4 linked regions of the Homo sapiens genome follow. The main gene of each other region encodes a partner of the protein of the gene in region 3 in a complex. Each region holds a gene or a part of one and is shown on either strand. Other genes may lie near its edges.

Evidence for each region.
Region 1: the proteins of YWHAZ (region 3) and CRTC1 are in contact, whole or in part, in a crystal structure (PDB 7D8P), measured with the Homo sapiens proteins. Residues at the interface, in NP_001129171.1 of Homo sapiens: Asn42, Val46, Lys49, Arg56, Arg60, Lys120, Arg127, Tyr128, Glu131, Gly169, Leu172, Asn173, Val176, Tyr179, Glu180, Leu216, Ile217, Leu220, Asn224, Leu227, Trp228; in NP_056136.2 of Homo sapiens: Arg147, Arg148, Thr149, Asn150, Ser151, Asp152, Ser153, Ala154, Leu155, His156.
Region 2: the proteins of YWHAZ (region 3) and MAPT are in contact, whole or in part, in a crystal structure (PDB 8QDV), measured with the Homo sapiens proteins. Residues at the interface, in NP_001129171.1 of Homo sapiens: Glu14, Leu43, Ser45, Val46, Lys49, Arg56, Arg60, Lys120, Arg127, Tyr128, Glu131, Gly169, Leu172, Asn173, Val176, Glu180, Ile217, Leu220, Asn224; in NP_058519.3 of Homo sapiens: Ser637, Cys639, Gly640, Ser641, Leu642, Asn644, Ile645, His646, His647.
Region 4: the proteins of YWHAZ (region 3) and SOS1 are in contact, whole or in part, in a crystal structure (PDB 6F08), measured with the Homo sapiens proteins. Residues at the interface, in NP_001129171.1 of Homo sapiens: Glu14, Asn38, Asn42, Ser45, Val46, Lys49, Arg56, Arg60, Phe117, Lys120, Arg127, Tyr128, Ile166, Gly169, Leu172, Asn173, Val176, Glu180, Asp213, Leu216, Ile217, Leu220, Asp223, Asn224, Leu227, Trp228; in NP_005624.2 of Homo sapiens: Arg1157, Arg1158, Pro1159, Glu1160, Ser1161, Ala1162, Pro1163, Ala1164, Glu1165, Ser1166.

Annotation. Positions count from the first base shown.
Region 1 is NC_000019.10:18,770,597-18,777,888, reverse strand, and holds part of CRTC1 (CREB-regulated transcription coactivator 1), read right to left. Parts: intron 6,448-7,292; coding exon 6,343-6,447; intron 2,990-6,342; coding exon 2,903-2,989; intron 2,249-2,902; coding exon 2,068-2,248; intron 719-2,067; coding exon 507-718; 3' UTR 1-506. UniProt on the Homo sapiens protein: Transcriptional coactivator for CREB1 which activates transcription through both consensus and variant cAMP response element (CRE) sites.
Region 2 is NC_000017.11:45,890,633-45,897,832, forward strand, and holds the start of MAPT (microtubule-associated protein tau), read left to right. Parts: upstream 1-3,921; 5' UTR 3,922-4,054; intron 4,055-4,847; exon of another isoform or gene 4,848-4,881; intron 4,882-5,150; exon of another isoform or gene 5,151-7,200. UniProt on the Homo sapiens protein: Promotes microtubule assembly and stability, and might be involved in the establishment and maintenance of neuronal polarity.
Region 3 is NC_000008.11:100,948,937-100,956,837, forward strand, and holds the start of YWHAZ (14-3-3 protein zeta/delta), read right to left. Parts: upstream 3,085-7,901; 5' UTR 2,993-3,084; exon of another isoform or gene 2,520-2,992; intron 2,377-2,519; exon of another isoform or gene 2,250-2,376; intron 1,636-2,249; exon of another isoform or gene 1,470-1,635; intron 1-1,469.
Region 4 is NC_000002.12:39,117,985-39,126,208, forward strand, and holds the start of SOS1 (son of sevenless homolog 1), read right to left. Parts: upstream 3,068-8,224; 5' UTR 2,439-3,067; coding exon 2,352-2,438; exon of another isoform or gene 2,107-2,351; intron 1-2,106.

The sequences.
Region 1 (7,292 bases), on a different chromosome or scaffold from region 3:
CGGCGTGGGGCTCACTCTCTACCTGACCACGGGCTGGGGATGGCGGATGGGCTGGGGGACCGGGAACCAAGGAAGGCAGTGAGAGCTGGACAAACAGTCGGAAAATGCGCCACGGCCCACAGCCCTGGCGGACCATGCGCGCCCCTCCCCTGAGCCTGCCCGCCACGCCGGGAGCTGACACTTCCCGCATCTTACAGGGGACGGCTCAGGCCCCGGGGCTGGGGGCGAGGGAGCCAGTGCAGGGAGGGTCTGCAGGGGCGGGAGGCTCACGGCCTCCGATCCCAGCCCAGCCCTGGGCGGGCGGGTGGGTGGACGGCCCGGCTCGCGGCCTCGCGATTGGGCTTCGCGGGAGGTGGACAACCGGGGGCGGGCTGGCGGGGGGCGCTTGGCGGCATTGCAAGCTCAGAATCACAAGCTCGGCCGTTGGCGAGGGACGGAGCACGGCCGTCCCCGGGCTGGGGAGGCGCCGTCGGGACGGCTGAGCGGCAGGGTGCCGGCGTGCCCGCTCACAGGCGGTCCATCCGGAAGGTGTCCTCGGTGGCTGGGTCGGCCAGAACCATGTCGGGGTCGTTGAGCATGTGCAGTCCGTCGAGGGTCAGGGGGTCGATCTTGAGTTCGTCCAGGGGAAACTGGCTGTCGGAGTCGAAGCTGACGTCGCCGACCCCGGCCAGAGAGCTGGTCAGTTCTTTAGAGAGGCTGGGGGGGGACTCTCCTGTCACTGGGGGATGGGGTGGGGACAAAAGGCACTGCTTAGCCCTGGCTCCATCGCTCGCATCCATGTGTCGGACCAGGCATGCCCGCCGGGCGACTCTGTCCCCTGGGTATGCTGGCAATGTCTGGGGACATTCCAGCTGTCATGACTGGGGGAGGGGCCAGCACATGAGATGCTGCTCAGCACCCTACAGTGCCTGGACCCCAGAGACCAGTCTGGCCCTAGATGTCAGCTCCAGATGTCAGGAGCACCAAGGAGAAGCCTCGGGCCAAGGGCTGTGTCACTGATGCACGTCAGCATGACCTGGCGAGGGCAGGGACCTCCCCGGCTCCCTCAGCCATGAGGGCTGCTCGGCACGAGTCACTGAGAAGCAGGCTGGAGTGACTGTGGGGACCCAGCTGCTGCTAGGGCTGGAGGGAATCCTCAGTTCCCCCACAAAGACCCGGGTTCAAACCTAGGCTTCCACCTACACTCAGGTTCCAGGTCTGAGAAATGGGGCTGAAACGCCCTGTCTTTCTGGGCTCTTGAGGCCATTGCGGGGGTCAGATTCTGATTCTTCTCCTGAGTCTGAGGCTGGCGCGTCCACCCTTGAATTTCTCGTCAACTGCTGCCTACACCCGAGGGGTGGGAAGGAGGTGCTGGATTCTGCACTCAGAGCCCAGGCCACAGTGGGGGAGCACTAAATACGGACACTTCCAGCCTGGAAGAGGCCAGTGAGGACTGCCAGGGGGCGCATCACCCTCAATCCAGCAGCCCTGACTCATAAGGGAATCATCTTCTTCAGCAGGGAGACAGGGTCTGGGTTCTGTGCTAGATGGAGCCGGGTCTTCCTGATATGTGCCATGCAGGACGGGGCTGGCTTGTCCCCAGGAGCCCAGGCGCCGTGCTCAGACTGCTTGGGCGTGGTTGTCACGGTGCATCACGGCCCTGACCTGTTAGCTGGCTGCCCAGGCTGGGCTCACCAGACAGGGCCCACCCCACAGCCGTCCCTGACCCTGGTGCACATTCAGCTGACAGGTCAGTGGCCTGGGCAGTGGGCACCGTGTACCCGGCTGCTTCACCTTTACCCGGGCTGCTTGGCCAGACAGGAGGCCGCCGAGAGGGGAGAGTGACCGTCTCTATCCTATGCACGGGACGTCTGGTCCAGAGGCATCTCCCTGGCCTGGCCTGGCCCGAAGCCCAGGAGTGAGTCAAATTCAGGGGAGAGGGGGTGTGGCCTCCTCAGGCCCCCATCAAGCTTGGGTCACAACCCCGGCCCTGTCAACCCTCCTGCTGCGGGACAGCAGTCTCTGGCTGTCTCCGCACGGGCTGAGGCCCCTTGGGGCGCCGCACACGCGCCCCCGGCCTGGCCTCACCTGTGAGGATGATGTTGGGGATGCCACTGTGGCTGGCGTATCCCAGTTGCTGCGAGTCCGGCAGGCTCCCGTGGCTGCCCGTGAGGCCCATCATGGCCGCCTGCGAGTAGTTGAGTGTGGAGCCCGGGCTGTACAGGCTGCTGGAGCTGATGGCGTTCTCCATCATGTTGAACTGCTCCAGCTGGGAAGGGAGGCACACCAGGCTGTGAGGGCCACCGCGGGCCTGCCCAGCTGGCCACCCCAAGCCCTTGGCTGCTGTGGCTGTCCTGCCCGCAGCTGGGGACTCTGTCCCTGCAGGATGCTCGGCACCCAGGCTGCCAAGCACGAACCCCACTCCACCCGCCACCTGGGGCCTCCCCGCCACCCTAGAGACTGGCTGGATGAATGGATGAATGGATGAGCAAATGAGTGAGCAGCTCCAGGCTGCCACCAAGCCCCCTGGATGCCCCCGATCCTGGCCTCCACGCAAAGCCAGCACGACCTCCCGGCAAACCCGCGTGCACGGTCCATGCCGAGGCGCCGCGTCCACAGCCACGGTCCCATCCCTGTCTGGCCCGGCGTTTGCTGCCTGCCCCCCCTCACCCTCTGCCCTCGGCCTCCGCTCTGTAGGTGGGCAAAGATGCCAGGGGAGGCAGCGCTAGGCCACCCCTGCCGGGGACTCAGCCTCCATAGCCCGCAGATGGGACGGGGCGGGGGCCGAGGGGCAAAGCTGAGGGGCAGGCACGGGCCCCCCGAGCACGTGCAGCTCTGACTCGCAAGGCCCGGGTCCCAGCGAGGGTCCCAGCAAGCATCTGTCCTGGGCACCGGCCGGCTGGCAGCCTGGGCGCCCGCTCACCTGGTGGGACAGAGCATTGGCCTGCCTGGCCGCCATCTGCTGCTCATAGTACGCGTCCCCAAACACGCTGCCCAGGGTGGAAGTGTGCTGCAGACAGAAGAGAGGCCTGCTGTGGTCACGGCCTGAGGCCAGGTGGGAAGTCGGCACCTCCCAAGCCCGGCTGGAAGACAAGAGGCCCCTGGAACCTCCCAGACGGCAGGAGGCTGATGATGATGCTTATTTTGGGGTTCCAGAAGTGCCCCCCAATCCTGGATGACTTTTTTTCTGCCACCTGCTCCTGGGAGGCCTCTGCAACCCGAAAGCCCCTTCCCAAGGCCCCATCCCCATCTCCTCTCCTCAAGCCTGGGTAAGGCAGCCTCTATCTCCATCACAGGGAAGTTGGGGGCCACAGGGATGAGGAACCCCCACCCAACAGGCCCCAGAGGAGAACCTGTCACCAGGGCCAAGGCGGGAAGTGCCCAGACGTTACATTCAGGACAGAAAGTGCACTTGGTGACTCCTGACAGGAGACAAAGGACACGACGCAGGCCACGTACATGGACAGGATGGGCGCACAGAGCCAGCCACCAGCTGAGAGAGCACAGGACAGGCACAGGGAGAGCCCCTGCCCAGGGCTGCCAGCCTGCAGGACCCGGGGCCCTACTCCTGCTATCTGAGGCCAGCAGGGCTCTCAGAGGCAGGGTGACAGGGGCTGTCCCTTGACAGGAGCAGGGGGCTAGGGGACCTTATGGGTGGTGGAGACGCTAGAAAGGAGACACTCGGAGCCCCTCCCCAAGAGATGGTGGGATGAGGTCTGGCTGGGGTGTGGAGGCGAGGAGGGGGTGGCCGTGGACGAGGCCTCGGGAACCCCAGCTGCAGTGTGACCTTGTGGCTGCTGGAGGCCTGGCAGCATCCAGGGGGCTGGGAGCTCTGGCTAGTGTCCCCAGGAAGCCACTGCCCCACAGCCATTCTCAGAGCTATAGCGTAAGGCATGTGCCCTATAAGGCGTCCAGGTGAATGTCTCCACAGACCCAAAGCCCTGGCCCTCTCCCTTGGAGCTCCCCATCTGAGCTTTGTTCTAGAGAGATCCCCTTTGTTCCAGGAAGATCCCAACGCCTGAGTCTCTGGCCTCAATCCCAGAGAGGGGCCGGCCACAAACCCACCAGTTGCTCCTGGTGGTCAGTGGGCAGACAACAGAGACAGACACGCTCACCCTGGGGCGAGGAGGCTTGTGAGGTTGGACGTCCCACTCAAACGCCAGAGAAGAGGTAAAAAGGTGACCCAAGGAAGGGAAGGCCAGCACGTGTGGCAAAAATGCTATCTTGGCCCTAAAAATCAACGGCTTCAGGTTTTGGAAACAAGGACCGCAAGCTTGCGGCTTGGTTTGCCCGAGGCGAGGGAGGCAGGCAGGCAATAGGTAATGTCCTGGCTGTCGTAGAGCTGGTCTGAAGCTGGGTCTGTCCTGGGGCTCGGGGTGTGGGGTGGGACCAGGCTTCCAGGACAGCGCCTGATCCTGTCCCTGAGGGCTTGGGCTCAAAAAGGCCTGGCATACACAGGGGAACACAGGCTGAGGTTTCCCTGTGAGCCTGCCATGAGGGCTTGCCAGAAAGGTGAGCTTGAAGTTGGGAGAGAGCCACAAACTGGACCAAATGGTAGCTGCCTGTGGCCCAGGGCCTGGCTAGGGTGCACACAGTGGCTACTCAAGGCAGGACACAGCAGGTGTGGGGTGGTCTGGGCCTGTGGGACCGATGGGTGAGTCCTCGGAGACCCAGTGCAGAGGGAAGGCAGGTCTCGGCTCCACCTAGAACCATCTGCCCCTGAGAGCCCCGTACTGATGTCCCTATACCTCCATGAGCCGCCTGCCTCCTGCATCAGCGCACGACGGACACCAGACACACAGACATGGGCTTGACAACACCGCCACCTGCTCGCTGCCCAGCAGACTAACCCGCTTTGGCTTGGGGCCCAAAAATTCACCAACCATTCCAGTGACTCTCTCCTGAGAGAAACTGGCTCGACTCCTAATTCCTGTCCCGTCCTGTCTCACATGCAAGAGGGACCTCACTCAGGAACCAGCCCCACCTGGGCTGCCCACCTGGGACAGGCCTCACCTGCCGCTTCTCCAGCCCCTCCAGCCCCATCCCCAACAGTACCACACGACGAGACCAGACACGCTGCCAGAGCCCGAGAGCTCAGAGAGCCAGTGCGGGCAGACCAAGCATGCGCAGACACCAGGCTGACCCCCATGCCTCCCCGAGACCACTGCTGCCCACCAACTTGCCTCCAGAACACGGGGCTACAGGCAGTGGTCCCAGACGGCCCTTGGCTGATGGGGCAGATGTCCCTATACACGTGTGAGAGCTGGAGATGGGGGCAGAGGGGCTTCACTGTCCTTGTCTGTGGCGCTCACGGTTTGCCCTGGGACAAGGGAGCCCGACCTCAGCCCTGGAGGAGCGACTCTTTTATCTAGCTGGGAAGTAGGACGAGAGCATCCCCTCTACAGGGGACAGGGATGGCTTCAGGGCCCCGGGCACAGCAGTGGCTGCTAGGGGTTTCTCAGCTTGGTGAAATTTCAGGGATGAGATGGTCCCAGGATAGCGGGGTTCTGGGGAGGCTCTGCTGCCAGGGTAAAAAAAGTTGGCGGCTGGATGTTGGCCTTGTGGGCACCCCTTCTCCCGGACAAATGTTCTAGATGGAATGTGGGGTCTACTGGCCACACCTGATGTCAAAGTACAACAGGAGGAGGCTGAGTGGGGAGCCAGGCTGGCCGCTTCCACTGGCCAGGCAGAACGAAGGGGCATTCCGAGGAACCTGAACCTTGGAGTGGCTGGGGCGTGAGCAAGCCAGGGTCCTACGGTGCTGGGTGCAACAGGAAAACCCAGGGCTGATGGGTGAGGTTTGAGGCTGACCTCAGTCTCCCGTCTGTGGAATGGGGACAAGGGCCCTGAGACACTGCAGAGCGGCTCAGAGAAGCCTCCTGGGCCAGTGGTTCTGGAGAAACACAGCTGCCTATGGGGTGAAGGGGAAAGCAGGGCTGCAGAGTCAGCGCCTTCCCTGCGGGCGGGCCAGCCACCTCAGCTGCACCCCCAAGTCGGGGGGGTCCCTAAAGCTCCAGCTCATGCTCTGGGTGACACACTGGGTGTGGAGGGCATTGTCCCTGGGCCACTCAATGAGGACATCCAGGCAGGGCCACAGCCATCGCTAATGTCACTAACGCACACCCCCACCTAGTGTTCAGCAGAGGCAGGCTCTGGCGGCTCCTGGGAAGGACCCTGTGGGGTTCCTGCCCTGGTGCAGCCTGGTAGGTGCACAGCTCAGGTCCGATGGCGTGGACGGGATGGGATGCATGAGGACATGCATGAGGAGCGATGCATGAGGACAGACAGTGGGCAGGGAACACACGGGGCATGAACAAGACAAGCGTGGAGCCCACAGGCCAAGGGGGAGGCGGCGCCCCTTACTTGCGGGGAGCTCCCTGGGGAGAAGCCTTGATTGGAGACTGGCGAGGTGGGAGACTGGTTGGCCGGGGAGCCGGCGCTAGTGCGGTACTGCTGCAGAGCCGGCGCCTGCGATGACAGACAGATCAGCACGCCGCAGCCCAGCTGCCCAAGCCCGGGCTCCAGTCCCTGCTTCCCGGGAGCAGCCTGATCAGCCCCCAGGCAGGTCCCCCCGCCCCTCACACCTTGGTGATGGTCGCCACCCCACTGGTAGGCAGAGGAGCCTGGACACCTGCAGGAAAGGTGGGTACCTGAGCCTCCGGGGAGCTGCCCCCGAACCCAGGAAGGAACGGCGTGGAGGGTGAATAACTGCCCTCCTTCTTGGAGCTACAGGAGGGTGATCAGAGGGTTGGCCCTGACTCAGCAGGCTCAGAGCCATATAGCAACGTGTGCACTCTCATGCATGCACACCCACACAGACATACCCACGTGTACACATATCCACACTAGAATATACATACCCACACATGCACACCCACACATGTGCACATATCCACACATGAATGTACATGCCCATGCATGCACACCCACACATGCACACACACGCATACTCACACCCACAAATGCACACACACAGGCACACATCCACACACAAACGTACATACCCACAAATGCACACATGCACACAAATGTACACACCCACGCATGCACACCCACACCCACATGCACACCCACACCCACATGGACACACCCACGCATGTACACACCCACACACACATATATTCACACACCAAAATGTACACACCGTGTGCACACACCCACACAAGCACACATATCCACACACAAATGTCCACATATCCACAAATGTCCACACATCCACAAATGTACATACCCACGCATGCACACATGCACACACATTCACATGCATGCACACCCATGCAGGTGCACACCACATACACCCGCACCCACCCACT
Region 2 (7,200 bases), on a different chromosome or scaffold from region 3:
TGAATAGATTTAGTGGCAGAGCCTCCAAATTCTATAGATACATTGATCTCAGTCCTAACCGCATCTGGAACACCATTAAATAAAGGAATTGCAAACCCAGAGAAGGTAATGAATTTGTCTAAGGTCATACAAGATGGCTAGGATCAGGACCCAACTCTCCAGTTTTCTTTCTTCTCTGCTATTCTGCCTTCTGTGATCCTACATAAGTGGGCATGATTGTATAACATATGCGGCCATGAGATTTCTCTTTCAGCAAGAGAAAGGGACAGGAAGAAAGAGAGGGAATGCATTTTCTTGGCCTGAATTAGTGTGAGCCATTAGTTACCTACATTGACTAAATTATCTGGAATGAACATTCAACTCTACATCACATATAGTTAAAATGACAGATCTGCTTAAGATTGTTTCTAGCATACGTTATTTCAATTTAGGCAAATGTGACCATTCAGTGTGAGGGGACCATACTGTCATTAGGTCCCTGTCAGTTCTCAATTATACTGTTATCTTAGAGGGGGAAAAATGTGAAATTTGAATGTAGACGAGTGTTGATTTGACTGCTACAGTTTATTTTACGTATAGAAATAAAATAATGTGTAGCAAAAGCATTATTACAAAGATGATAATGAAATAACTAGTATTTATAATAGTATAATAGTATAGTATTTATAATAGTATGATAGTTTAATGACTATTTGTCAGATGTTGTGTAAGAAACTTTATACACACACACACACACACCTCATTTAATTCCTGTATCAATCAGGATACAGGACGCTGTGGTAACAACTCCTCAAATCTCGGTGGCTTGCACAACAAATGCTTATTTCTTTTTTTTTTTTGACACCAAGTCTTGCTCTGTAACAGGCTGGAGTGCAATGGTGCAATCTCGGCTCACTGCAGCCTCTGCCTCCTGGGTTCAAGCGATTCTCCTGCCTCAGTCTCTCGAGTAGCTGGGAACACAGGCACGCGCCACCACATCTGGCTAATTTTTGTGATTTTAGTAGAGATGGGATTTCACCATGTTGCTCAGGCTGGCCTTGAACTCCTGACCTCAAGCGATCCACCCACCTCAGCCTCCCAAAGTGCTGGGATTACAGGCATGAGCCACTGCGCCCAGCCCCAAATGTTTATTTCTTGCTCATGTGACATGTACTTCCTCGAGTTTTTCCTTCCTGAGATCTAAGCTGAAGGAACAGCTCTCTGGAGCCACGCCATTCTGGTGGCGGAAAGGAAGAGTAAAAGTGGTAGAACCTTGCAATGCTCTTGAAGCGCCTATTTGGAATGTCTACATCATGTAAATGGTAATGGACAAGTATGTATAATCCCCACACCAAAAAAAGGGGACACTATTGGGGACAATAACCACATTTCAATGCTGCAAGACGGATATTGACTGCACCCCCTTCCCACTTTCAGAAAGAAGAAGAGTAATTTTGCTGAACTCCTTCTAGAGACTGGAAATGTCCCTTCCAGTTGGGGTGATTAGGGAAGGCTTTGGTAAAATTTGAGCTAGAGTTTGAAGGTTAGGTAGACTACTGGTGGGTGAAGAAAGAACAAGGACCTTTGTAGGCAAAGGAAAACCTCAGAATTACAGAGGTGGAAAAAGAGTTCTAGTCAAGCCACTTCAGCTGGCTACAGAGTAGGTGGGAAAGAAAATGGGAGGACAAGGGCTCAGATGATGGGGGGTTGGGGCATTGGGGGGACACTTGAAAGCTAAACTAAGGGGTTGAACTTAATTTAGGAGGCAGTTAGAAGCTTTTACATATTTTTGAGCAAGAGAGTGACATAATTAAAATGATCTGGGCCAGGTGTGGTGGCTCACACCTGTAATCCCAGCACTTTGGGAGGCTGAGGAGCTTGGGTCACCTGAGGTCAGGAGATCGAGACCAGCCTGGCCAACATGGTGAAATCCCGTCCTACTAAAAATACAAAAATTAGCCGGGAGTGGTGGCATATGCCTGTAATCCCAGTAGCTGGGAGGCTGAGACAGGAAAATCGCTTGAACCCGGGAAACAGGTTGCAGTGAGCCGAGATCGTGCCACTGCACTCCAGCCTGGGCAACAGAGCGAGACTCCATCTCAAAAAAACAAAACAAACACACACAAAAAACCAAAAATAAATAAATAAAATGATCACTTCTGAATACTGATCTAACTAGGGGTTGCAGGGTGGGCTGATATAGGGAGAAACTGGAGAGCAAGGAGATCACTAAGGTCCCTACATGTCCAGAACCAAGATAGAGGTCTTGAACTAGGATGGTGGCAGTTAGAACAACAACAACAAAAAGTCAATTCCAGGCTGAGTGCAGTGGCTCATGCCTGTAATCCCAACGCTTTGGGAGGCTGAGGTGGGAGTTAGAAAGCAGCCTGGGCAACACTGCAAGACCTCCTCTCTAAAAAAAAAAAAAAAAAAAAGTTAGCCAGGTGTGGTGGTGCCCACCTGTAGTCCCAGCAACTCAGAAGGCTGAGGTGGGAAGATTGCTTGAGCCCCAGGAGTTCAAGCTTGCCGTGAGCTACGATTGTGCCACTGCACTCCAGCCTGAGCAAGACCTTGTCTCCAAAAAAAGGTCAATTCCACTGACTTTTCTAAGGTGTACACCATCAAGGGGCAGCTCCATCTCCAGGCCATTGGCTCATGAGACATTCTGTAGTCAGAAGGCTAGGGCAGATTGCTTTGAGCAAGCCCCCATGGTGGTTCTCACTCCTACTTCTTTGGGTATATGCCCCTCTGTTTAAAAATAAAGTTAATATGCATTTAAAAAAAAAAAGGAGAAAAAGGTCAGTTCCAGAAACTGTGTGAATAAAGCATTTTACTTGCTTTTTCTATTAATCTATAACATATGTTGATTTTTTAAAAAGAATATAAGAGCTATGCAAATTGGAGCTTCAAGACAACTTCCCATCTCCCTAGGAGGAGATGGCTGCCCTAAACCCCCCTACATAGAAATCATCCCACTGCTTGGGCTTAAACTTGATGTTGGGGAAATGAAAAATCCAAGCTAAGGCCGAAGCCTGGGGCCTGGGCGACCAGCAGAATGAGGACCACTGGTCAGTTTCAGGCTGAGGTGCGTCTTCCAGGGGACAATCTCTAGCTGGCCCTTAAACATTCAGACTTCAAGCTCTATTTACAGCATAAAGGTGTTTCAAAAGACGTGATACAAATAACTGCAAATGCTCTGCGATGTGTTAAGCACTGTTTGAAATTCGTCTAATTTAAGATTTTTTTTTCTGACGTAACGGTTAGATTCACGTTTCTTTTTTTTTAAGTACAGTTCTACTGTATTGTAACTGAGTTAGCTTGCTTTAAGCCGATTTGTTAAGGAAAGGATTCACCTTGGTCAGTAACAAAAAAGGTGGGAAAAAAGCAAGGAGAAAGGAAGCAGCCTGGGGGAAAGAGACCTTAGCCAGGGGGGCGGTTTCGGGACTACGAAGGGTCGGGGCGGACGGACTCGAGGGCCGGCCACGTGGAAGGCCGCTCAGGACTTCTGTAGGAGAGGACACCGCCCCAGGCTGACTGAAAGTAAAGGGCAGCGGACCCAGCGGCGGAGCCACTGGCCTTGCCCCGACCCCGCATGGCCCGAAGGAGGACACCCACCCCCGCAACGACACAAAGACTCCAACTACAGGAGGTGGAGAAAGCGCGTGCGCCACGGAACGCGCGTGCGCGCTGCGGTCAGCGCCGCGGCCTGAGGCGTAGCGGGAGGGGGACCGCGAAAGGGCAGCGCCGAGAGGAACGAGCCGGGAGACGCCGGACGGCCGAGCGGCAGGGCGCTCGCGCGCGCCCACTAGTGGCCGGAGGAGAAGGCTCCCGCGGAGGCCGCGCTGCCCGCCCCCTCCCCTGGGGAGGCTCGCGTTCCCGCTGCTCGCGCCTGCGCCGCCCGCCGGCCTCAGGAACGCGCCCTCTTCGCCGGCGCGCGCCCTCGCAGTCACCGCCACCCACCAGCTCCGGCACCAACAGCAGCGCCGCTGCCACCGCCCACCTTCTGCCGCCGCCACCACAGCCACCTTCTCCTCCTCCGCTGTCCTCTCCCGTCCTCGCCTCTGTCGACTATCAGGTAAGCGCCGCGGCTCCGAAATCTGCCTCGCCGTCCGCCTCTGTGCACCCCTGCGCCGCCGCCCCTCGCCCTCCCTCTCCGCAGACTGGGGCTTCGTGCGCCGGGCATCGGTCGGGGCCACCGCAGGGCCCCTCCCTGCCTCCCCTGCTCGGGGGCTGGGGCCAGGGCGGCCTGGAAAGGGACCTGAGCAAGGGATGCACGCACGCGTGAGTGCGCGCGTGTGTGTGTGCTGGAGGGTCTTCACCACCAGATTCGCGCAGACCCCAGGTGGAGGCTGTGCCGGCAGGGTGGGGCGCGGCGGCGGTGACTTGGGGGAGGGGGCTGCCCTTCACTCTCGACTGCAGCCTTTTGCCGCAATGGGCGTGTGTGTGTGTGTGTGTGTGTGTGTGTGTGTGTGTGTGTGTGGAGGGGTCCGATAACGACCCCCGAAACCGAATCTGAAATCCGCTGTCCCTGCCGCTGTTCGCCATCAGCTCTAAGAAAGACGTGGATCGGGTTCTAGAAAAGATGACTCCCTGCACGCCCCTCCCTGCACCTCCCGAGCAGTGATTCCGACAGGGCCTTCACTGCCCCTGATTTTAGGCGGGGGCCGGCCCCCTCCCCTTTTCCTCCTTCAGAAACCCGTAGGGGACATTTGGGGGCTGGGAGAAATCGAGGAGATGGGGAGGGGTCCACGCGCTGTCACTTTAGTTGCCCTTCCCCCTGCGCACGCCTGGCACAGAGACGCGAGCAGCGCCGTGCCTGAGAACAGTGCGCGGATCCCACTGTGCACGCTCGCAAAGGCAGGGTTCACCTGGCCTGGCGATGTGGACGGACTCGGCGGCCGCTGGTCCCCGTTCGCGGGCACGCACAGCCGCAGCCACGCACGGATGGGCGCGGGGCTGCAGGTGCATCTCGGGGCGGATTTCTTTCTCAGCGCTCGGAGCGCAGGGCGCCCGGCGTGTGCGCTCCCTGCCGGAGGCGCGGGGCTGGCGCGCAGGGCTCGCCCCTCACTGCGGCAGTGGGTGTGGACCCTGGTGGGCGAGGAAGGGGGAGGATAGGCTGTGCCTCCTCCCACTCCCGCCCCCAGCCCCCCTTTTTTTCCCCCTCGGAACGCGAGGTGCCATCTTTTTTCGGCGTGTCACGTCTTTACGGTGCCATGCCAAACCGGGTGGCCGGGCTTCATAGGACAGGGCGGGGCCTGGCATTAAAGGGAGGGGGACAATCAGCGCTGAAATCTTGGCGTTTTGCTGCTGCGGGCGTGAGCACTGGGGGCGTTCGCCCAGCACCTTCTTCGGGGGCTCTTTGCTTTGTCTGTAGAGGTTACGTGATCTGCGCTCCCAGCCCTGGTTTCTGGCTTTTATTCTGAGGGTGTTCAGTCAACCTCCCCCCTACGCCCATGCGCCTCTCTTTCCTTTTTCGCTCCTCATTTCCGAGCCCATTGTTGGATCTCGAGGCTTGCTGGGTTCGATGAACTCGAGTCAACCCCCCGACCCCCGGCACGCATGGAACGGGCGTGACCGCGCGCAGCCTCGTCTCGGAGTCTGCCGGCGCCGGGAAGCTTCTGAAGGGATGGGATTCGAGTCTCCGTGCGCGCTGCGGGCGGCGGCAGAGGGATCTCGCCCCTCCCTACACCCCAAGTGTCCTGAGGGCCACGCCACACCAGGTTGCCCAGCGAGGGACGCTGGCTACCCATCCGGGGATGGGTGGGGAGCCCTGGCGGGGCCTCTCCGGCTTTACGCCCTGTTGCTTCGCCTGGCCGGAGAATGTGAGGAAGGGGCATAAGGTTACTGGTGCTTCGGCCACACCCATCTTTCTGAGCCCACTGGACTGGGCGCAGAGGGGGGATTGCCATGGAAACCACAGGTGTCCGGAGAGGGGATCTTGGGGCTGGCCTCACCCCTTCCCTGCGGAGATTGGGGACCCTGGGGTAGGGGGAGCCGCGCCCAGTCGGCCTCCTGGAGGACACGGGAGGAAGCCCCGAACCCCCGCGCCTGAGGCTGTTTCTGATTGGCCCCTGGAGGCCGCAGACACGCAGATAGGCGGCCCTGGGTGTATTTTTATTAATATTATGTCCGTACTGATTAATATTATTTATCTTAAATAAATTTCACCCGTGTCCAAGTTCACCGCGCCCCCAAAACCGAGTCTGGGGCGGCAGGGGGAACTCCTGGCCAACGAATCCATGCCTCGCCCTCCTGTGATGAACCTGGTACGCACGGTTTTCTGGTTAATTCTATCGCTGAAAACTGGTGCGGGGGGCGCACTTCTGAGACGGAAGAGCATCTAGGAGCTGAATCCTCCACGCGGGTCGCCCAGGTTGATCTGAATTTCTGGGGAATGGCTTGGCTGCCCGCCCGGGACCAGGCCGACCCTCCTTGACGGTGGCGTAGAGGGCTGGAGCCTGGGTACTGCGAGGCTCCTCGCATGGCTGGGCCCGCCGCGAGGGGTTGCAGAGCGGCTCAGGGATCGATTCAAGCATCGTCTCTCCTCCCTCGCCCCCAGACAGAGCTGGGCGCGGGGTTCCCCTTCCAGATGGAGCGAGGGTCTCGGGGTGGCCCCGGAAAAGGGGAGCCCGCGGCCACGGCTACGTATTGCCATCTCGCGAGCAGAGATGTCACCTCCTGCCTTTGGAGGAAAGGGAGCCCGGTGGGGATGAGCGCATTTAGCCCAATGCTGGGAACAAAGCGCACTCCGCGCTTCTGCGATTTCGCTCCATTTTGAAATGTGTTGGCGCTTTGGTGGGGCCGCTGCGGTGGGCAAGGCCGGGGGCGCTGTTAATGGAGGAACCTCAGGGGGACGGTCCTTCGTAGGAAACTCTATCCTGGCTCTGCGCGCGCTTTAAGGAAATGGCTTCCCTCCAGGACCTCGAGGGATGCAGCTTTTGCGCGGATGACGGTGGGGTGCTGAACCAGCCGGTGCGCCTCTGGAAATGTCTGGGCACGGATCCTGGGGCCATCGACGACTCCTCCCCATTCCCAGCAGGCGGGAGCTCTTACATTCCGAGCGAGTGACCCCTCTCACCCTCTGGCGCTCACACACCTGTAACTCCAAACCTCCGTCTCAGAATGGTCCAGGCTGGAAGGGATGATGGGGGCTCCGACAGCGACTGCCTAGCTCACCCCTCTGCGTGCTCAGGCTCCAGGCTCAGCAGGACCAATTTGAGT
Region 3 (7,901 bases):
CCATCAAAATAAACAGACTCAAAATTATACCTGTGGTAAATGAGTTTTTTAAACCTGAAACCTAACTGCCTGTGAAAGACTGTTCACATGAGGAATTAAAATGCAGCCTCACAAAAGGATAGTCAAAAAAGGGAAAAAAATTTAGCATACTCAGCATCAGAGGTAAACTTACAGCCATTAACACATCAGTGTAGCAAAACTTAAAATTTGTTCAGAAGACCCAAATTTCACATGTCAAAATTACTTCCAAAAGCTGCCTCAAAAACTACCCCTAATCTTACCTGATCAAAATCTCAACTCATTTCCAATACCACTAAGTGATCCAAAATTAAGCAGCTTTTCTTCCTTTAGTAAAAGCATTGTTTACAGAGAACATCTGGATTTCTATCATATTTCCAGAATCATAATTCATATCAGTTTAATGTAACTCACGTCTTTTTACTTTCATAATACTCTTGTCAAGAGTGATTACATTTTAGCTTTAGTGTTACCCCTACCCCAAACCTACTAGATCTCTGCAACAACTGCCAGCCAATAATAGCATAACAATTTGGGGGGGAATGACCAACTGTTTGTTTTCAGATATTTTGAGTATAAATCCACCACAAAGGATCAATATCTGACCCTAATGTCTCAACTCTTTATCTTGTTATATGTCCACATGCTTTAAAAATATCCGCAAGTCATGACACTTCAACTCTTACTGTGAGTACTAGAATATATCACATTGGAAGTACTTAATTTATAAGTGTTTCCAATGTCATCGCTCCAGTTGAAATGCAGAAGTGCTGCATTTTGCTTCTAGCCATCATAATGTAATTGGATGTTACCACTCAAGCTGTCCTTTACCATGACTACCCATCTAATTCTCTTTCCCTCGCATTTTAGTTTCCTGGACCTTTTCGATTTACCTCAGCTACATTTTTCTGGAAAGATACCCTTTTGCAAGTTGCCGAACAGCACAAAGATACTAATCCACACAGTGACACCACAGAATAAATGACTTCAGAGGAAAATACACACCCTGAATGAAGTGCACTTTTAAGTTAGAAGGTGAACAGAAGAGTCCACCTTGGCAGCTGGCTCCCGAATATTAATCATCTTTTACCTTCCCAGGGAAATCCCACAATATTTTTTTAACCAAATGAGAGAACAGGTCGCCACATTTTAAACAAATAATTAACCACTTTGGATGCAAGGTACTGGCTCAATACGTAAACTATTTAACCTTTATGACGGCATTATTTTCGTCAGGTCTCTAAATTACTGATTTTTCCCTTAGGATCTCAGAAACGCTCTCTGGTTATTTCTGCTTCTAACAAAAAATGATTTAAGCCAGTACAAAGGATTCTCTCCCCAATCACTTCGGTACAAGAGGAAGTGGATAAGGTTTCTCACACAGTAACGAGTGCTCCAAGGCCTCGCCTCTACACTGCGGGCAGGACTCACCGCACCCATTTAACCCTTACCTGACTTGAGACGTCGGTTACTGTGAAACGAAAACGGGCAGACCCGGACTTTAAAGTGCAAATTCTCCGGTCCGCGTATCGCAACCACCCCCCTCCAGGCTCCGCCCAAGTCGGAGCCACGGCTCAAGTCCCCGACTCTCCTCCTTTGTCATGGCGGATCTGTGTCAGGGAGCCCAACCTACTGCAGAGTGTTAATTCCTCCCCCCGACCGGAGCCAGAGGGAGGAGCAGCCCGCGCCCCCGCCCAAGCCGTGGGGGGGGGGGAGAGATGGGGAGCGAAGCCGCCCGACCCCGGGGCAGAGACGCCACAGCAGCCCGCAGAAGCGGAACCACTACCAGCCCCGCCGCGGACACACCCCGCTCTCCCACCCAGCGCCTTCCCCGCCACCGATCAGCGCCGGTGACCGTGTACAGCGTCTCTAAGGGACCGACAGCTGCAGGTGGGGGAGGGGACGAGAGCCACACCCAGCCGAGCGGGCCACCAGCGGCTATGCTCAGGCTCACCCGCCCCCAAAGCAGGATATGCGTCCCCAAACCGAGCGCAGGGACCCTCCAGTTCTAGTCCATCAAGCACGGGAGCCGACTGCGGGCTCACCACCCTGTTCTCTACCCCGACCTGGACTTGCAGCCCCCGTCCACACCTCCCCCGCCCGTTCACAAGGAGCAAAAAAAGTCAGACCCATCCCCCACCCCCACCAGGAAAATTCAAGTCCTTCCTCCCACCGCGGAGCCCAGGAAATTCAGCTCTAGGTCCCAGGCGAGCCCCACCCCAAAACCTCACCCCGCAGTGGACTCCCCTCCCGCCGGCGCGCAGCCTCGCCCCGGTCTACCTGGCGGGCGCCGCCGCGCCAGGCCTGGGCTCCGGCCCGCTCTCGGCCAGGCCTTTCCCTCGCGCTTGGGTCCCCGAGGCCCCCGGCCCCTCCCCGCCGCGCCACCGCCTCCCGGGGTGGGGGAGGGCCGGGTCCCGCCGCCGCAGCGCCCAGCGCGGAGGCTGCGCGAGGGGGAGGGAAAGGAGGGGGCGGCCGAGGGAGAGGGGAGGGGGCGGCCTCACCTGCGCCACTGCGATGCCCGCCGCCGCCGCCGCCGAGTCATTATCTCGGGCGGAAGCGAGAAGGGCGGCGAGGGAGGGGGTGGAAGCCCGCAGAGACAAGGGTGGGGATGGATCGCGGCCGGCGGCGCCCCGGCCATGCCTCGTCCACCTTCGGGAGCCGGCGACAGGGAGATCCCCAGGGATCTCGCGTGTGGGCGCCCTACCCACCCCCGGGGGCAGGACGGGGGAGCGAGCACCGATCGGCGCCGGGGCGTCGATGCGGAAGCAAGGAGCCGGAGGCGGCCGCTAGCCGCCCTCCCGAGCCCAGCGGAAGAGGAGCCGCCGCCCGTGTCCGCTGAGGAGACTCCGCCTCAGCCCGGCGCCGCCACCGCGGGGCGAGTGGGGATGAGGGGACGGAGCGAGGACGGCTCCCACGCGTTCGGAAGGCTGGCCTGGGACAGGAAGCGAGGCGCGGCGGCGGCCGGGTTCCTCACCTGTGTCCGGAGTGGGTGGTGGCGGCGGACGGACGGGCTCAGCAGTCTCTGGGCGGCGGCGGCGGCAGCAGCGGCGAGGCTGAGACTCTGTCCCTGGATCTCGCTGCTCACAGGCTACAGCCGCTCCGCAGACACGGGGTTTCCTCCAATCACCAGCCCCGGCAGCAGGGGCACCACACGCACGATGACGTCAAACGCTGCTATGGCAACCGTTGATTGGTGCCCACAGCGATCGGGGCCCCGCGTAACCGCCGCTCCCCGGCGCTCGTCCTGCCCGCCCGCGCTGGAGGGCGAGCGGAGGCGCGCGCGTCCTCGCCCGCAGCCGCCACTCCTCCCACCCCGCTCGGCTTCCAGCTCCTCTACGCTTGTCCCGAGTGCACCTAGGGCAGGAGGCTGCTTTTTTCCTTTTCCTCCCCAACGCAAATCCCCCACTCCTCGCCTTCCCTTTGGGTCCCCAACGCCCTCTCTCTCCCTCTCCCCTGCAGCCTCTGCCGGCCCACTCTTCCTCTCAGCCGGCGGGAAGGCGTTCTCTCCCTACCCCCACCTTAGCTTTCGCTCAGCCCGTCTGCGCTTGCCCCAGTCACTCCCTCTGGAAGGGGCTCCCGTTCAGCAACATCCGGGACCTTTCACATCCCCCCACCCCTCCCCGAGGCCCGGCCCGCCCCACCCTCCGTGCTTCGCGGTAGTAACTGCCCCAGGGCCGTCCCCGGGCAGGATGACAAGGGTGGCTCGGCGGCTCCGGCATTGTGATCAGGACTTGCGGGGCGGGGGCCCCGGGGCGGGGGCAGGGCGCGGTCGCACGGCAAGGGAGGGTTGTGTGTGGTGCGCTGCCCCCCGCCCCGCCCGCCGCTCCCCTTCCCCGGCTGGGCCGACCGGGGCGCGCGGCCCCTCCCGGCCTCCCTCCCGCCGCCGCGGCTTTACCTGCTGGCTCGGGGGAAGCGGTCCTAGACCTTTTATGGCTCGGAAACGGGAGTGAGGCGTCCAGCCCCTGAGTGTGGCTGAGTGATGGGGAGGCGTTCCAATCGAGAGCGCGGGATCTGCGCTCGGTGACTGCGCGAGGGGACAATGGGTGGGCGCCGAGGTGGGGGCGAGGTGGGCCGGGCCGGGCGGAGCCGGCAGGAGGTGAGGCCTGGAAGGAGGCGCGGCCGCTTTAGGGAAGCCAGAGTTCCGAGGGGAAAGGACAGCCTTCTCGGGCGGAGGGCTGGAGCTGGTCCTGGCAGCCTTGACCCGGAGACAGGCAGTCAGGCGTGACCGCACGGACCCGTTTCTCGTAGGCTAGGTTTTCCTACCCAAATAAAGCTTTCACGTGAAGACCTCATACTGCACATGACGATCATTACCTTTTTATCTCCTAGAAGCAAGGTTTGAGGGACGTCGTAGTCCCCAGGGTTCCAGCTGGCGGTGGGAGTGGGCCACAGGCCGGGTGATGAGCCGGGACGGGAGCCCGGAAGAAGGGGAAGGAGAAAGGCGGAAATTGCAGGTGCCTGAACCGGTAGGGCCTCCGCCCAGTTGACTTCAGGAAGTTCAGAGAGAAACATTCACAGTGTGAATGATCTCTGCCCCTTCCCTCTTTAAATGTGTTCGGGCTAAGAAAAGATTAGTGCTTGGATGACCTGCAAAACCACTTGCAACAGCCATGGAGAGTGTACGGTTAGCAATGAGAGAGCTTGGAACTCTTCATTTTACTCTTGTGTAAACTCCCCATTGATTCTTCCAACGTATCTTTATTGAGCTGACCAGAGCCTCCGTTTAGCCTCATGTTCTCTACAGAATTTAGTTTCTCAGTAGTAGACACGAAATGATTGAGTCCTCGCTCTTCCAGTACATTGTCTTTCCTACATAATACAGTGGACCACAAGGCTGCTCTACAAATTACTTTTTGCCTGACATGACAGCTGGCATTTAGATAGTACAGACCAGAAAGAGGGTTTCCAGTGACCAGTTATATTTTAGTGGGTTTTTTTGTTGTTGCTTTTCACAAGTTGCCAAATCACAGACTCATGGTAGGTTAAATGGATAAACAAATTGGAGTTTTATTTCTGAGATGTTAGGGTCAACTAGCTTTGACTCCCAAGTAAATTCTTTTAGGGCGTGACTCACTTAAAATGAGTAATATTTCAAAAGCTATTTTTTTTACAGTTTTTTCGTAGGCACCAGAAATTTGACAGAGGATACTAAGTTAAACGTTTTTTTAAAATGGAAATTGATGTTTCTTTAATGTCTCAAATATATGTCTATGTAGAGTATATGCCTTTTGTTTTAGAGGAAGTTAAGGGGTTTTTCTGTATAAATATGGATTTACTTCAGGAAACAGCTAAGTTAGGCTTTTGCCTCATGCTTTAATAGCAAGGCATTTTTTAGTGCAACAATAGGCACTGTTAGGTTTTACATACTCAAGTCAATGTGTCTGCACAATAAAGATATAATGAAGCTGCAAGAAAGGAACGGGATGTTATGAAAGCCCTGAGGAAAAGATCTTTTAAGAAATAAGGAATAACCTGTGGCATACAGAGCAGAATAAATAGAACCTATGAACCCTGGGAACTTTGCTGGAGACTTTCACTAATACCCTGACCTGTATTTTCTTCAATGCGCAACTCTTACCTCACTCAAGTTGGTTAACCTCTATGTGCTTTGATAGCCACGGCAATAAAATACTGGCAACAAAAACACTTAACTCATCAGGTGATGCTGAGGATTAAACGAATATACACATACATATATTTCTTAGAGTAACCTAGCTATTATTCATTTGTAAATGGATATATCTGATTGATATCTCTAGTGTTCAAAAGATTGTAAAGATAAAATGAAACTATTTTCTTTTTGATTTTTAGGAAACTTCAGTAGCAGAAAGAAACCATATTTTTAAAGTATCTTTTAGAAATAGAAATGCCTATTTGTGTTTCTTAGTGCTGAGACATGAGTGATGAGGGTGAATATTGATTCATTCCTCTATAGGGGACTGCAATGATCTCTTCAAAGCTATACATCAATATATAATGCTATACATTAAAATGAGAAAAAGCCCAGGCACAGTGGTTCACTCTCATTATCTCAGCACTTTGGGAGGCAGGCAGATAGCTTGAGTCCACGGGTTCAAGACCAGCCTGGGCAACATGGCAAGACCCCTTCTCTACAAAAAATACAAAAAGTAGCTGGACATGGTGGCATGTGCCTGCGGTCCCAGCTACTGGGGAGGCTGAGGTGGGAGGATCATTTGAGCCCGGAAGGTAGAGGCTGCAGTTAGCTGTGATTGTGTCACTACACTACAGCCTGGGCAACAAAGCGAGACCCTGTCTCAAAAATGAAACACTAAAATGGGAAAGAGTTTAAGTGAATTAGCACAAGTCCATCCCTCCAATTGGGAAAACATCTCCAAGGATGGACTCTGTTGATGATGTGGCAGTTATATGATATTTTAAGTGTAATCACAATTCTGTCAGGCTATAATTTCACTTCACTGTGTTTTATTTGGAGAAATCCAACATATTGCAGAAGGTTTTGCAGCAGAACAGGGACTAAATCTTGGTTTGTCATTCAGAACTGTGTGACCTTAGGTTTCTGAATTGGACATACCAATTTCTAATCCCATTATAATGGTTGTTGCAATGATTTCATGAGAAAGTAAGGAAAGGGCTACCTACATGTAGTACACCAGATCATGTATATCTGTTGTTGAAATAATCTGCAGTTAGTAGCAGAGACAAGCTAGCTATTCACCAAACCCATTTTTCTCCTCTTGCTGCCCCAGTTGGACTCCATTGCCCATTCTCCTTTGCAATTACATGTGGCCATGTTACTGAGTGCTGGCTAATGGGGTATGACCGCAGGCATGTGCTCCACTTGCAGGCCTGGCCCATAAAAATCTCCCTGTTTGAATGTTCATTCCATTCCTGTTTTTCCGGCTGAATGGAGAGGATTCCCAGGGCTTAGAGGCAGTGAGGTCATAAAATGAAGACAGCCTGGGTCCCTGGAAGCCTATGAAAGCCTGCCCCAATCATTTTGGAGTTTACTGAGGGATAACTTCTATTTTAGGCCGCCGCAATTGAGAGTTTATCTGTTAAAACAGCTAGCACTATAATGTCCGTGAAAGTAATTGGCAAATCTAAAAGATGGGAAAGATTTTTTTTTAAATGAAAGAAAAGGGGAGGAAAAATGAGAGTAAGGAAAGGGAAACTGATCTTTTGATAAAAGGCAGTTGAAAGAAATACAGGCCAAGTGCAGTGGCTCACGCTTGTAATCCCAGGTCTGTGGGAGGGTGAGGTGGATGGATCACTTGAGCCCAGGAGTTGGAGATCAGCCTGGGCAACATGGTGAAATCCCGTCAATACAAAAAATACACAAAATTAGCTGGGTGTATGTGCCTGTAAATCCAGCTACTTGGGGGGCTGAGGCAGGAGGATCGATCACTTGAGCCTCGGAGGTTGAGGCTGTGGTGAGCTGTGATTGCACCACTGCACTCCAGCCTGGGTGACAGACTGACACCATCTCAAAAAGAAAAAATAAAGAAAAACATAAGTATTCTCAACTATTCTGTTGACTTCTAGAATTGTGTCCAGCATGGGTGGGTTCTTGGTCTCACTGACTTAAAAGAATGAAGCCACGGACTCTCTCGGTGAGTGTTACAGTTCTTAAAGGCGGCACATTTGGAGTTGTTCATTCTGATGTTCGGAGTTTCCTCCTTTTGGTGGGTTCCTGGCCTCGCTAGCTTCAGGAGTGAAGCTGCAGACCTTCGCGGTGTTGCAGCTCATAAATGCAGCGTGGACCGAAGGAGTGAGCAATAGCAAGATTTATTGCAAAAACCAAAAGAGCAAAGCTTCCACAGCGCCAAAGAGGACCCAAGGGGATTTCCACTGTGGTCTTGGGCAGACCTGCTTTTATTCTCTTATCTGGCCCCACCCACATC
Region 4 (8,224 bases), on a different chromosome or scaffold from region 3:
GCCTACCAGATGTCAAGCACTATAAGTATGGGGAATAAAATGTGGGTAAGATATCATCCCTGTTCTCAAGGAGCATCCAATCTAGTTATAGGCAAGTAAATAGGAACTTAAAATTCACAGAGCTAGGACAGGGTGCAAAAAGAAAACAAAGGAGTAATATCCAACTCAGCCCTGATGATTTGACAGTTCAGGTTGAGTGAGTCTAGAAGGATGAGTAGTGTTGGACCAGGCAAAGAAGGATGAAGGGACTAGCATATCCAAAGAGCCTCAGGTAAGAGTAAGAGAACACAAGTCGGATGTATCTACGAATAATTCAATAACAAATCAAAGGAAGAAATCAAGATATGGAGATATCCACATGAAATGTCCAGCAGGCAAGTAAAAACGTAGGTTTTGAGCTACCAACAGCATATCCAGATATGAAACATACTGTATTTTCAATCTTGTTTAGAATCATTGTTAGTGGCTATTTAAATAAGAATTGGAAGAACCTTACATATCAGCTAGATTATGTACACTTCCACCTCCTCCTATCACTTCTACTGCAAAAGTATCTCTAACTTAAAGTCAAAAGCTGTTTTATGTAAATATGCAAAAAGGACAAGTGGGGGCTGTGGTAAGGTGGAGATACATGACCTGTCTAAAGAAGGGAGCCATTTACTCAACTCCAGCAGTTTAGTGCCTCGCTTGAATACAGGCCCTAAATGACAAGACCTTCCTATTCTTCAAGAAAAGCCGAAAATTCAGGTTTTATGTAATATCTCCCATTTTCAAATATTAGCAACTAATTACATTTAAAAATAAAACAACACTATGCCAGCCAAACAAAATGCTTTTGTGGACAGATTTCAGCAAGGGCCACCAGTGTGGCAGAATTAAACAACGTCTGTCAACTCCTACAATATTCTTTCCACTGCTTCAAAGGATCCTCAGCTGATACCTTGGTGATTCCCCTGGGAAAGGAGCTGCTTTTGCCTCTAAGCAAAATGGCCCCTATTTGGCAATGCTTTATGAGTTCCTTTACACGTTTTTAAACAATTTCCGTGTCTCCCCTTACTCTATCCGGACACCAGCTTCTAGCATCACAGAGACCTCCTACACCCCTTCCATTACAAGCTAAGAAGTCAAACTTGCAAGTAAAGCAAAAGTAAGGAGTGAGAGCCTGAAGGGATTTCTAAGGAGTAAAGTATGTAAGATATATGGCATCTTTTCTTCTGTTTTTTAAAAAAAATTACATAGATGTTTGTGACTAGTCAGACACTTGAAGGGGAAAATGTCCGTAATTTAAGCCAGAAATATATGAGCAAATTCTCCTGAAAAACCAAATAGTTTCCACTGTAAGACAGCAAGAGGGACCGGAGGAGAACAGGGCAAAAGGGAAAGTAAAAGTTACTGGCCTTTGAGAAATATCAGACACCTTTTAATGTTTAGCATAAAAGGTAAAACATAATCTCCATTCTTAGTAGAAGCAGTTAGCATGAAACATTCTTTGAGCAGCAAGAAACTGGGATTTAGAAACACTATTAGAAGAGTAAAGCAATCTTTACAGAAAAGGTAAATGAAGAAAAGAAAACAAAAATAGTCTGGTTGTCACACTGCTGCTTTAGAAGCTTTAAAAACGTAAGAACACTTCCTAATTATACTAAAACATTTAAAAGCACAGATCGGGGGTATGTAACTTCAGGTAACAATGTAGCAAACTTAAACATACAAAGGCTAAAAATTCTTAACAAGCCAAATGACAGCACCAAGAATCTCGAACGCTGCAAAAACAAAACAAAACCCCCCTGAAATTGGTAGCATGTGCACCAGCCCCTGTTAATCGGAGGAGCGGGGGAAACCAGGAGAATGAGGAGTGAATACTGACGGCGAGCAGAGCAGGCCACGTTCCTACTGGCAGGCGAGCTCGCAATTCCTTTGAGCAAGCCTTACGGCCAGGGCATTCTCAAGCCACTAAAACCAGCGTACTGGACACCTAAAACGGTAGGCTGACAGCAGCTCCGGGCTAAGACCAAGAAGACGGAAAAGTGGCCTGCTTTGACCTCCGCTGAAAACTGAGGCTCCTCCAACTGTTGTTGTCCTGGAATCAAAGGGCAAAGCATTCACCTCTCAGGGGTTGGATTATCCGGATAAACTCCCCCCGGCTCCCTGCGGCATTCCCACACACCCGGTGGATGTCAACACCGAGAGCCAGCCGTATGAGGGGGGCCTCTCCGTGTGCGCCGTCCTTTTGGAGACGCGGCGAGACCGGGAAGAAAGACGGCCCTGCGCGCGCCCCGCCTCCCCAGCCCTTCCCCAGCGCCCGCGCTGGGGGGCTGCGGCCGGGAAGCGGGGTCCCGCGTGCTCCTCACCTTTTTCAGCGCAGGCACCAGTAGTCCCCGCCACTTGGGCGCGTTCTCTTCGCTGAAAAACTCGTAGGGCAGCTGCTGCGCCTGCATGGTGCCCCCGGGGCGCCTCTGGGCGGGGAGAGGGGCGGCGGCGGCCGGGCCAGGGAGCCGCGAGAGGGCGAGCTCGCAGCGCGGAACAGGGCCGCGGCCCCACCGGACGGCCCGGCCCCCTCCGGGCGCCGCGCAGCCGGGCTAGCCCTGGCGAGGGGGCTGGGGGGCGAGGCCCGCGCCTGGCCACCCACCCGACACAGGTACCAGCCGTGGAGAACGGACGCGGCCCGGAGGCGGCGGCATCCCGCACCACCGCCCCGGGGCCAGGCCCCCCGCCCCTCCCCGGCCCGCCGGCGCCGCCCCGGGCTGCCCTCTGCCGCGGCCGCCGCCCGCCCGCCGGGGCTGCACTCCCGGGCCCGGTCTGGCCCCGCGGCGGAGCTGGCGGCTGGGGGAGGACGTGTGGAGGGACGCTCCGGCCGCGGCGCCCGCTCCGCGTAGTTGGGACTCCGAAACGCAAGAGCCCCGGGCGGGGCGGAGCTGGGGCGGAGGTCTCGCGGGGAAGGGGAAGGACCGGAGGTCGTTGTTGGGGAATCTGGCTGCCCTGAGGTGCCGCCGCGGCCGCCGCCGCCACCGCCGCCGCCGGTGTAGCGCTGGAGCTTCCTACTAGCGAACTGAACCTGCTCGCTACTGAGCATGCGCTGCCGTGCTGGGCTGGTTCGCTCCGGGTTTTCCGGCTCCCGGTGAAGGAGGAGGAAAGCTCGAGAGAGAAAGAGAGAGAGAGACAGGGAGGGCGCCCGGCCGGGCTGTGGCTGCGCTCCTGGGGGCTGCAGGGGAGGGGCGAAGGGGCCCGAGAAGTCGCACCCTGGCAAAGTGGGGCCTGCAAGGGTGGGTGATGACTAGGGTAAAGAGGCTCCCCATTGTGTGGCCTGGCCGTGAGGGCTCCCACCCTTCTCGGAGTCCCTGGGCCCTTCGTTTCGGAAAGGGGTGTGTGTACTTTGTTCCTGAACACGAAGATAAGGACTGCCCAGAGCACGCAATGTATAGTAAACAGACTGGACAAAAGACAGGTGCTCTGTCACGAAACCTACTGCTCAGTATCTGCTGAGTAGTAGAAGTGATTGCGGTGTTTCTAAGTGGTCTTTCCACAAAATAATAAAATGTGTACGTGTAGTATTGATTTTGTGTGAATGTTTTAGATTCCCTCTGTTCATCTTTTAAACCCACTCCAGAAATGAACTCCAGTAAGCACTTTCCTCCAGTGGATATCGAGACCTCTTTTACAGCTCCTAGAGCACTGCACTTATGCCCCTCTCAGGGCGTTCAGTCTATTGTGTTTTGTTATCTTTTGCGGTTCTTTCGACTAGATAATAAACTGGAAGGCAGATCTTTTTCACCAGGGCCTCTACACAGTGTAGAACAGGCACTCAGTCAATGTTAGTGGAATGCTAAAGGAGCAGTATTTATAAACTGTCCCTCCAGGCCACTGTTTGTTTATAATAGGGGCACTTTGTGGCAGACACCTTATGATTTATCATTAATTATCATTTTTTTGAGTATCATCTCATTTAATCCCCATAGCAACCCTATTATTTTCATTTCACCGATAAGAAGGCAGTTTAGAGGAACTAGCCTGGGTTAAAGCTGACATTGTGTCCTGCTATTCCTGAGAACAGTAACCAGGATCACATAAACGAGAAAGGTTCAGTGGTTCTTAATCTTTACAGGACCTCTTTGAAAATCTGGAAAAACAACTCTTAGGTTATTTCCTTTAAAAATACACAGGCCGGCCAGGCGAGGTGGCTCATGCCTGTAATCCCAGCACTTTAGGAGGCCGAGGCGGATGGATCACCTGAGGTCAGGAGTTCCAGACTAGCCTGGCCAACACTGTGAAAACCTGTCTCCATAAGAAATACAAAAATTAGCCGAGCATGGTGGTGGGCGCCTGTAATCCCAGCTACTTGGGAGGCTGAGGCAGGAGAATCGCTTGAACCCAGGAGGCAGAGGTTGCAGTGAGCCGGGATCATGCCACTGCACTCCAGCCTGGGCAACAAAACCAAAACTCCGTTTCAATTCAAAAAAAAATATACACACACACACACACACACACACACATACACACAGACCGGCCGGGCGCAGTGGCTCACGCCTGTAATCCCAGCACTTTGGGAGGCCGAGGTGGGCGGACCATTTGAGTTCAGGAGTTTGAGACCAGGCTGGCGAGACCCATCTTTATTGTTTTATTGAAAAAATAAAAATATACATACTTGGTTTACATTTGAAAAACTCCCCACTTTCAAAGTGTGTGGAATGAAAGCTGGAATTATAGGCGCCTGCCACCACACCCAGGTAATTTTTGTATTTTTATTAGAGATGGGGTTTCACTGTATTGGCCAGGCTGGTCTCGAACTCCTGACCTCGTCATCCACCCGCCTCGGCCTCCCAAAATGCTGTGATTACAAGCCTGAGCCACCGCGCCCGGTCAGCCCTCTTCAAATATTTAAAGGGTTGTGATATGGGGGAAGAGATTGGTTTGTATGGTTCCAAATGAACCAACATCAAGCCTGTACCCCAAACTATTGCTTGGCTTCCCATTGCTCTTAGAATACATTTCAAACTTCTTACCGTACCCCACAAAGGCGTGCATCTGGCTCCTGCTCACATTCTCAATGTTTTCTCACCATTCACAACCTCGCCTCACCACACTCCAGTCACAGTAGCCTTCTGTCTATTCCTAGAAAACAACAACCTGCCTAAAGAACATTGTTCTTCTCTCAGCCTAGAACCCCTAACTGTTCCCTTGGCTGGTTATAAACATCACCACCTCCAAGAGGCCTTCTCCGATCACTCCAAGTAATTCTCACCTGTGTATTTCTACCTTATGTTCTTTTTATTTCCTGCTAGCACTAAATCAAATCAGTCCTCTATTTTTGGTTGTTGGTTTCCCTCCTGCCCCCAAATAAAATGTAAACTCCTAGAGAGAGAGAAACAATCTTTTTTTTTTTTTTTTCTTTTTCTGAGACAGAGTCTCATTTTGTTGCCCAGGCTAGAATGCAGGCGGAATCTTGGCTCACTACAACCTCCACTTCCCAGGTTCAAGTGATTTTCCTGCCTCAGCTTCCCGAGTAGCTGGGACTACAGGCGCACGCCACCAAGCCCGGCCAATTTTTGTATTTTTAGTAGAGGTGGGGTTTCGCTAGGTTGGCCAGGCTGGTCTCGAACTCCTGACCTCAAGCAATCCACCCACCTCCGCCTCCCAAAGTGCTGGGACTACAGGCGTGAGCCACCGCGCCCGGCCGAGATCAACAATCTTGTGCGTTTCGTTCTTCATTGGTTTTAATCGTATCCCCGGGGCCTACAATGCCTGCACACAGTAGGTAGCAATAAATATTGTCGAAGGAATAAAATGTGCATGCAGGAAAGTTCCAGGACTACATAATCAACGTTGTTTCCAGAAAACGGGCGATTTTCGGGGTGTGCAGGTAAAAAGCGTACATTCACTCACTCGGGCTAAGAGGTTGGGCATGTTGACCTCTAAGATCCCCTTCAACTCCGAATCTCTGATTTGACTGCAGAGGAAAACAAGCCCTAGAAACATGGGTTACAGCCTGGGCTAGGCTTGCTTAGCGGCCAGGGCAGGTTTTCACTAGCATGGCCGTTTGGGCCGTAGACAGGGCGGGTAACTGGAGAGAAACTGCAGTGAAGAGACTCAGTGCTTCGCAGCGGGGAGACCTACAGGGAGTGCCAGGGTCAGCCCCGCTAAGGTCAAGGAGCACTCCATCACCCCTGTACTGCTTGCCTGTATCTCTTGGGACAAAACAAAACACCTATGTCCATTCAGCAAGAGAAGACAACCGTGCGGACTCAGAAACGTGCAGACGGGTAGGCACGTGTAGACGTAAAAGTGTCGCCCACCAATCCCCCGCGCCAGCCCCTCAGCTTTTACCGCCGACGGGTGCGCCCTGGCGCAGGCGCAGAGGCTTCTTTTCGCTTCCCTCCTCAGCTCTAAGGAGCCTCACGCCACGGCGGACGTGACGCACGAGGCGCGTCCGGGCGGAATAGGCGAAGACCGAGAGGGGCGCGTCCAGGCGGGCTAGCCGAGTTCCGAGCGCGGCGCATCGGAGTAGGGCGGCGAGGACGGGGGCGGGGGTGGGCGTTTGGCCCTTCAGTGTGCCCCCTGCAGGTGCAAGTGCAACGCTCCGCGCCTTTGCCTGCCCTGCTGGCCAGGACGCGGCCACCTGGTTCTCTGCCTTGCTGCAGCCACAGTGATCCTTCTGACGCGAACTTCGGACCCAGCTACTTACTTTTCTGTTCAAGAACTCACACTGGCGTCCCAGGATAAATTCCAAAGTCCTTAACCTGGTATCCATGGCCTTGCACAATCGGACCGCTACTTATCTTTCTAGCTGTATCTCTCACTCAAAATGAACTGCTCTTGCCTCCTACAAACACATCACTTCTGTCTCTGTCTCCTGCTATTCAGAATGCCTGTCGCCTTTTTTCTCTAATGCCGCCCACCACAGCCCCACCCCAGCTCCCAGATACACGCTCGCGCTGGAACTCTTATCCACCCTGCGCGCCCTCAGCTCAAATGCTACCTTCTCTCTAAAGTTTTTTTTTTGTTTTCGGCTCTGATTCCTTCAGAGCCGAACAGGTAGAAGGAACAGCAGTTTCAGCCATCAGCAGTTAAGGTACTCTCTCCTCCAGAACATATTCACCCTCTGTCTTTCCCTCACCCTCTGTCTTTCCAATGCCTCCTTTCAATTCCTCTCCTCCAAAAAATGTATCTCCAGGAAACACACCAGAGAAAATAGTGACTGAGAAGAACACTAGATGCCCACTCTTTACTCACCTTTAGCTAATACTTTGAGTCCCCCGCCCTCTTCCTCCCTCTCTGTTTCCATCCCTGCCTTTGCAAAGATGGTACAGTTAGAAGAGATTATCAGAGGTTCTCCAAGACATATGGGACTATTCCTCGCACTTCTTTCTCGGGATTTCTGCAGGGAGCTTATAGGATATGCCCAAGTTTATCTTCTAAGAGAGAAGAGAAGACTTTTTGCAAAAGTCTCTTTCCAGTTGATTCAAGTTGTAATAGCTCCTCAAATTGATCACATCCAAATGCAATGTGACTTTAACGAAATTCCCAACAGGGATTGTCATGGAATTTGACAAACTCATTCTTAAAGGTATATGAAAGAGCAAAAGGCTAATTCTCCTGTAAAAGAAGAAGGTAGGGGAACTTGATTTACCAGATGTGAAAACTGATTACGTAGCTAAAGTAATTAAAACAATGGATATTAGCACAAGAACCTACAAACCAATTGATCAGTAGACAGCCAAATATATAGAAACCTGATACCGTAAGCATTGCAGATAAATAGGTAAAGGCTATACTGTTCAATAAATGAAATAATGTGCAATAGATAAATGCACATAGAAAAAATATACTTGTAACTCCCACCCTACGCAAAACAATCCCATTGGATTGAAGAAAGTGCAAAAAGCAAAATTATAAAACTCTGAGAAGGCTGGGCGCCAGTGGCTCACGCCTGTAATCCCAGCACTTTGGGAGGCCGAGGCCTGTAATCCCAGCACTTTGGGAGGCCGAGGCATGAGGGCAAGAGATCGAGACCATCCTGGCCCACATGGTGAAACCCCGTCTCTACCAAAAATACAAAAAAATTAGCCGGGCGTGGTGGCGCATGCGCCTGTAATCTCAGCTACTCGGCAGGCTGAGGCAGGAGAGTTGCTTGAACCCGGGAGGCGGAGTTTGCAATGAGTCGAGATCGCCCCACTGCAGTCCAGCCTGGATGACAGAGCAAGACTCCGTCTCAAAAAAAAAAAAAAAT